Linked DNA regions of Homo sapiens. The protein of the gene in region 1 interacts with the protein of each later gene in a pairwise test. Each region holds a gene or a part of one and is shown in the gene's direction. Other genes may lie near its edges. The genes, in order: BTN2A1 and CTXN3.

Region 1 (3,819 bases):
TAGCCATCCCTTCCTGTGCAGGGGATTTTCCACAGGACAGAGCTGTGGAAATTCCCTATAGACACACACTCACAATTCATTCAACAAATGGTCAAGAAGCATATCGTATGTTCAAAACACTGTTCTACCAAGGGTAAATCATTGAACAAATTATATTAAGAACTCTTCCCTCAAAAAGTGATTAGTTAGCTAACCATATATTCTATCAGATGGTAATGAACATCTATAGGAAACATTAAGCAAGGAAGGAATAAAGAGGCAATGTGAGACATTGCAATTCTTAACAGAATGGTCAGGGAAGACTTCACTGTAAAGATGGGAATTGAGCCATCCCATCTGATGGCAAGGAGTCATCAGATGCTTAAGGACTGAACAACCCAGCTACAGGAAGAGCATATGCAAAGGGCCTGGGGAAGGAACATCTCTGGCAGTTTCCAGGACCCCCAGAAGGTGATGCTGGTGTGGCTGAAATGGAGTGAGTGCAGGAAGTGAAAGGAGATGAATTCACAGAGGCAATGAAAACACATTAAACATGGCATTGTAAGCCACAAACAGTCTTTGGTTTTTAGGGCGAGTGACGTGGAAAGCGTTGGAAGGTTTTGAGCTAAGAAGTATCATGATCACACTAGGGCTGGTCTGTTGAAAATAGACTACAGAAGGTAAGGGCAGAATAAGAAGGAGGGCACCGCAGTATTCCAGGCGTGAGTGATGGTAGCTTGAGGCAGGGTGGTGGCTGTGCCGACTCAGCATGACGGGTTAGCTTTATTCATCCTGGTCCTTCCCATGGTGACTGGTTTGCTACCTCTGGGCCTTGGCCCTGGAAGCCATTGAGGTGTCAGCCAGGTGTGAGCCAGCATCACTTTCTCCATCTGAGTTTTCTGAGGGAGAAAGCAGGAGAGCAGGTGGCTGAGGAGCTCTTCAAGTGTGCTCCTAGGGGCACTCTTACCCCAGATGTTCTGTTTCAAACTAAGTGGATATTTCTGGCTGCCTTTTCAGAATCCTTTATGCCCAGTGTGTCTCCCTGTGCAGTGGCCCTGCCTATCATTGTGGTTATTCTGATGATACCCATTGCCGTATGCATCTATTGGATCAACAAACTCCAAAAGGAAAAAAAGATTCTGTCAGGGGAAAAGGAGTTTGAACGGGAAACAAGAGAAATTGCTCTAAAGGAACTGGAGAAAGAACGTGTGCAAAAAGAGGAAGAACTTCAAGTAAAAGGTAAAAGAGGCTGAGTATGGTGGCTCATGGCTTGAATCCCAGCACTGTGGGAGGCTGAGGCAGGCAGATCACTTGAGCCCTGGAGTTCGAGACCAGCCTGGGCGATAAAGTGAGACCCTGTTTAATTAAAAAAAAAAAGAAAAGAAAAAGAGTAGAAGGACAGTTCACCACCATAGAAAGGACACAGCTCTCCCAGGTACCAGCATACAGAAGAGAGAGGAAATGCACAGCAGCAGCAAGGACTTGGAACTCTCATGTCCTTGGAATGAATCTCTCAGAGCTTTCATTCTTTCACTCTGCCCACCTTGCATTCATTCATCTGGCTACATAAAGTACTAAATGGTTGAGCAAAAGCAAGTGTAACAATGTGCTGGTACTACCCAGCCACCTGATCATACATAATTTCTGGTTTCTGACAGTGCCCTAGGCATGAGGGAAGGGAGATGTTGCTGTTCATAGAAAGGACGGTTCCTGCATTGTTTACTAAAAACCCAACTTCTTTTAGTTCTTCTGTCAAAGACATGATTTTCTTTGTTTGTTTTTCAGAGAAACTTCAAGAAGAATTGCGTAAGTTTAGCCTTTCCTTAACTACATGTACAATTTGAGTTCTGCTCAGCAACATCTCATGACATTCGTCTCTGTCTGTCCCTTGCAGGATGGAGAAGAACATTCTTACATGCTGGTGAGTGCCTCTGATGTTCCCTCAGATCTCAGCTTTCTCCACACTAGCCAGCTAACAGGACTCCTTAGAGGAGATGAGCAAGGGGCCCAGGGCAAGGTGGGGACAGCAGGGAACGGGGGTCAGTTCATCAACAGTGTCCCAGCAATGATGCATCATGTCTCTTCTGTCAGGGAATCCCAGCAGCTCTCAATCCACCCTATGGTTTACATCCCAGGATCCTTTATCTTTTGGAGTAATTTAATGCATGATTACCAGAGGTGTCCCATATATAGTAGCCTTCCTAAGAGTTACATTTCAGTAGTTGTTGTTCTTTGATCCTGGATGAATTTGAAAAAAGACAATGCTATCTTAGCAGCTTATATCCTGGGGATGGTGTAGACTGTGCCAAGTTGAAGACCCATGTAGGGAAGAGGCCAGGAGGGTCCCTAGTAAGCCTGACATAAGGGTGTACCAATAGGTGGCCAGAAATGCCTTTCTGCTCTTAAGAGAACACTAATACTTTGTGTATAGCCTGCCGTGGGAGGGATTTCAGGTGGGTGGGAGAGCACAGAACCCAATTGCCCACTCCCAGTGAGCACTTTTCATCTTATGATTCAGCCCCTCTGCCCATAAGCACCACAGAATCCAAGCTTTACCAGATACCATGGCACATGGACCTTTCCTCTTTAGGTGAATTTCAAAATTGCCACTGTCAACTTGGGACAAAATAGCAAATTGTCACAGCCAGACATATTAACTTGGGGAATGGAGGAAATCATTTTAACACAATAGAAAAGTAGACTGAATAAGTAAGAATAAATACAGATGGGAGAGGTCTGCAGAATGCCCGGAGTCTGGAGCATTTCTTGTACCTACAGAAGTGATATGTGAAGACATCAGACCCATGTTGTTGAAGCAAAACTGGATGGGAATAGTTACTCCCTACATTTGCCCACAGACCCCTCAGGCAACAGGTTTTCTTTTGGGGACATTTATTCTCCTTCTTCATTTTTTGAAGGGTGCCCTTGTTAGTCATTTAAGTCAGTTGTGATCTGGTAAAAGGAACACATAGGACCAATGAAGAGACCCTTTATCCTCCAGGACAGTGTGAAGGGAAAGACTCACCTTAGTTGATCCACCGGGGAGAGGAGGAGCAGGACATAAAGCCTTTGTGCTGGTTTAAGCCAAGTTGGAAAGTTTCTAAGTAAAGAAAATCCCAGAGATCATAGGTCTTCATTTGGGGTTTTGTTTTGTTTTGTTTTGAGATGATGTCTTGCTCTGTCACCCAGGCTGGAGTGCCATGGCACAATCTGGGCTCACTGCAACCTCTGCCTCCCGGGTTCAAGCAATTCTCGTGCCTCAGCCTCCTGAGTAGCTGGGATTACAGGTGTGCACCACCATGCCCGGCTAATTTTTGTATTTTTAGTAGAGATGGGGTTTCACCATGTTGTCCAGGCTGGTCTCGAACTCCTGACCTCAGGTGATCCACCTGCCTCAGCCTCCCAAAGTTCTGGGATTACAGGCGTGAGTCACCACGCCTGGCCAGAGATCATATGTCTTGGATAGAAAAGGGAACACATCTTAGAATGCTGAGAGAAAGTATAAGAATGATTGATTTTACTTCATTTGCTAAACTTTCCGGATTTCTTAGAGCTCCAATTCTTCTCAAACTGAGAGAACTGCTTCTGTCTCTGGAGAGACAGAAGTGCAGCTTCAGTAATTCTCAGTGTGTGAGCTGCCTAGGATCAGAGAGCCTTCATGGAAGTGGCCACTACGTGGGGATCCCTTCAGAGATATCTGAGACCTCTCTGGGGATCAGGAACCACACAATCCCCAGGGTTCCTGAGACCCCAGGCCTAAACCTGAGACTTCCTCTGCAGTTGATGTGGTCCTGGATCCAGACACCGCTCATCCCGATCTCTTCCTGTCAGAGGACCGGA
Region 2 (3,819 bases), on another chromosome or scaffold:
TAACTTTCAATTTCTGGCTGATTTTTATATTTCAGATTCCACCCATCAACACGGAGGCCAAGGAAAATTTAATGAGCCAAATAACTTATGGCTCTTCAAATTACAAGATCTGTGGGTTTTAAAGTGTCATTGTGACTTGAACTAGCTGTCTTTCTTTCAAACAAGACTTACTTCAAATGTGATGGTCCAGCACCTCAGTCCGGCTTGATGACTTGTGCTTTTGTTTTTCCTCTCTGCATCAGTTAGCTGGCACCTCGGGTTTTGAATTCAGTTCCCTGGACTGTAAGGGGTTGAAGATTTGATTTAACTTATATTTAAAAAGGCAATGATCCCAGAACAGCAAATAATTCCTCAAGGAGCTTATTGTGTAATAAGGAGGAGATAAACACTGTCAAGACTCGCACTGTAATCAGTGCTGCCACCGAGTACAGGTGATGTCTCTGGAGATGGAGTAAAAAACACCCCATCCTTGGTGAAGGGAAACAAAGAAGGCCCCACCGAGAAGTGGGTATTTGGTGTGAACCCTAAGGGAGGGAGAGATGGAAAGAAGGAGAGGAAAGATGCTTGCCTCATAGTGCTTGCCTCCCCTCCTCTCCACAGATGGAAAGAAGGAGAGGAGGCAAGTATTATGAGGTAGGAAACCTGGAGGTGTTAGAGCACAGCAGGTATTGGATCAAGCTGAAAAACAGACAAAATGAGGACATTCTCCACAGGTGTCCACAGACTCAGTTACACGGAAGTTTATTCTGATCAACACATTGGCCATTTTACTGAGAACTAAATGTGATTTGGTGTTGACTCCTTTCTAAACTTATAAAAATAAAACTCAGATCTTAAAAATTCCATTGTCAGCATAGGTCCTAATCTGTGGTCCGGAAAACATCTGGGCATCAGGCCCACAAGGGGGTTAATGGGCTGTGGACACTGGGGTGCAAAGGTTTTCTGAGGGGAAGAGTGGTGAGATCTGGGCTTAAAAAGATGAATCGAGATGCAGTGTGTAGGAAGCATGGGCAAGGGATGAGGAACGCCACTTTGAAAATTACTAAAACTAAAGCAAGTGACTAAGAGTGTGAATGACCCTGGCTGCAATGACTACGCCTGCTGGGCTTCGTAAGTAATTATGGGTGTCTTCTGTTTTTGTCAGTATCACAAGGGAGCTTGACTCGAGCAAGGGAATGTATTATATGACTTTTGAAAAGGGTATCTTTTAATTAAGGTTTTCTTTAATTTTTCAGTATTAAAATTAGACTCTATTTCCTGAGCACCCACAAATGGACCTGACAAAGGGAAGACACAGATGTACTGCGTGATGAGGAAAGCCTATCAGGATTAAAATATGGCTGTGAGTAACTGTGGTCCTTCTTTATACTTAAAATAGCTGCCATGTGTTATTATGAAGGCTTCTGATGGTGGTATCAAAATCCTTTGAAATAATAGACTTGCACAGATTTCCCTGGTCATCTAAAAGAAAGATGTCATTATTCAGTTAAAAGCAAACTTGCACATTTTCTAAGAATCATTTTTACCAAAAAGGGACATTTTACTGCGAGACAGACATTTAAAAATTTACATGTCTTGAGATATTTTTGTATTGTGGTAGCAAAATGATTACATTTATTTCTTTTTCTCCACCTTATAATAGCTGATGCTTCCTTCAACTTATACATGCTGTTGGAGCTTTCTAAATCGGTAAATTATTGATTAGCTGATTGCAGGTTTAAAATCAAGCAGACTCTTCCAGGGATTTCAATCAGTCCTGGGCAAAATTGTGAATTAGTCAGCATTGGTTTCTGGATCTCTTTATCCCTTTAGCAACCACCTCCTGATTGTCTCTACCCACCATCCCTCATCCCTCCCCTAGGGCTCTCCAGTGGGCCCCCTGTTCACACCACCATGCCTGTCTTCCTGTCCTGTCCAGGAGTCCCTCATTCCCAGCTAGGTCTTCCTTCAATCGCCTTTCTACTTACCACACTTTCCCCTCCTTCAGGTGGGAACGGTCCTCACAAATTCCTGCTAGCACATTAATGTGCCACTTTCCTAGGTAAAATATTGCAATTTAGTAGGAGACGTTGATACTTTGACCAAAAGCAGTTATTTTTATAGGAACTTGGGCACCACAGTGTGCTGGGAGAGGAGAGGATTACAACTCCCAATGTGCTACAGAGTTTTAAAAATTCTTTCACCTCTATTTGCTCATAATTTGGTATATCAGGAAAGGTTTGGTGATGAAGACATTGGAGTATACACATATTTATATTTTAGGAGGCTTCTCAATGCAAAGAGGGTTAACCTTTCCTTTGTACCTTGCCTTTTAATCAGTAGAGGATGGTAAAACTTCAAATTAAAACTGATTTTAAAAATCATTCTAATACTTGGCATCCTCGTGCAGAATCTGAGTCCCAGAGTCATTCCTAGGGTGACTGAAGAGGCAGATATGGCAGATAATCTGAATCAGGATGAATAAGTTATTTGCTGGAATTTCTGGAATGGTTGCCTACCACTGCAGCCCCCAAATGAATGGTTTGCTCGCTGTAAATCCTGAGTTGTGGGTGAAGCCTAGAAAGTATGAGAGTTGATCCAGGAGAGAAGGATTTGGCATTTGCCCTGTATGGAAGAGAAGGCTGGGGAAGACTACTCCTGGGGTCACAATGTTGCTCATCAAGTGGAGATCCCCGGTGGGAAGGGAGGGACTGAGCAAGGTATCACCGTCCTAGTCAGCCTGCTTGTGCTGAGGAGGTCATTCTCAAGGACTCAAAAGGTTCTCTATCTAGTTCTTACCTGAATTTTTGGATTTCACAGATCCAGAAATCCTTACATCAGTTATACAGTTAATGGTCTTTTCTCTTCTTATATTTCCTTTTTGGATTATATGGTGTTTTCCTAAAGAACTTTCTGAAAATGGCCAGGCATGGTGGCTCATGCCTGTAATCCCAGCACTTTGGGAGGCTGAGGTGGGTGGATCACCTGAGGTCAGGAGTTCAAGACCAGCCTGACCAACATGGAGAAACCCCGTCTCTACTAAAAATACAAAATTAGCTGGGCGTGGTGGTGCATGCCTGTAATCCCAGCTACTAGGGAGGCTGAGGCAGGAGAATCACTTGAACCTGGGAGGCGGAGGTTGTGGTGAGCTGAGATCGCACCATTGCACTCCACCTTGGGCAACAAGAGCGAAACTCCGTCTCAAAATAAAAAAAAAGACTTTCTGAAAATGCATACCTGTCTCGGCTTTGTTGAGAATGGACAAAGAACAGGACTCTGGCCTCATTTGGGCTGGATGGAAAAAGGGCATAGAATGAGATTCTGATAATCCTGCAAGGAGAGCAGGAATCAAAGTGAGAGGATCCTCAGTAGGATATGAAAAAGCAAGGAGTATGTCAGGGATGGCCTCAGCATCTGCTCCTCTGTCATCAGCGGGCTTTCCTTTGGCCCAGCCCTTGGAGAATTTTATATTTCATATGATTAAGTATAGTTTGAATATTTTTGGTGGACACAGATGGCCCTGGTCTGATGTGCTGAGGAGACCTGCATTGGAGGCTCTGGCCTCCCTTCCTGCCCCTCCCTTCCTGGCCCACAAGGAATTAATACCCAAGGCTAGGAGGGTGCTTAGAAACAAGCAAACCAAAACAAAACCCAGTGCATTAATATCCTCTAAATTCCTAAAGAGCTTATTTTTTTAAAATGCGGTCAAATTTTTATCCCAATCTTACTTCCAAACAAACATGAATTATAAATGAGTTTTGCAACTGTTATAGCCTTTAAAAAAATTCAAAGTGATAGAGCTGCAAAAATGATGCATTACCCGACTGGTAACTCCTTCCT

The links.
Region 2: the proteins of BTN2A1 (region 1) and CTXN3 interact in binary tests that used the Homo sapiens proteins (3 or more experiments, as listed by UniProt).

What each region holds. Positions count from the first base shown.
Region 1 is NC_000006.12:26,464,189-26,468,007, forward strand, and holds part of BTN2A1 (butyrophilin subfamily 2 member A1 isoform 1 precursor), read left to right. Parts: intron 1-996; coding exon 997-1,218; intron 1,219-1,764; coding exon 1,765-1,785; intron 1,786-1,873; coding exon 1,874-1,900; intron 1,901-3,530; coding exon of another isoform or gene 3,531-3,553; exon of another isoform or gene 3,554-3,759; coding exon 3,760-3,819.
Region 2 is NC_000005.10:127,652,082-127,655,900, forward strand, and holds part of CTXN3 (cortexin-3), read left to right. Parts: intron 1-171; exon of another isoform or gene 172-280; intron 281-968; exon of another isoform or gene 969-1,110; intron 1,111-1,235; 5' UTR 1,236-1,342; intron 1,343-3,819.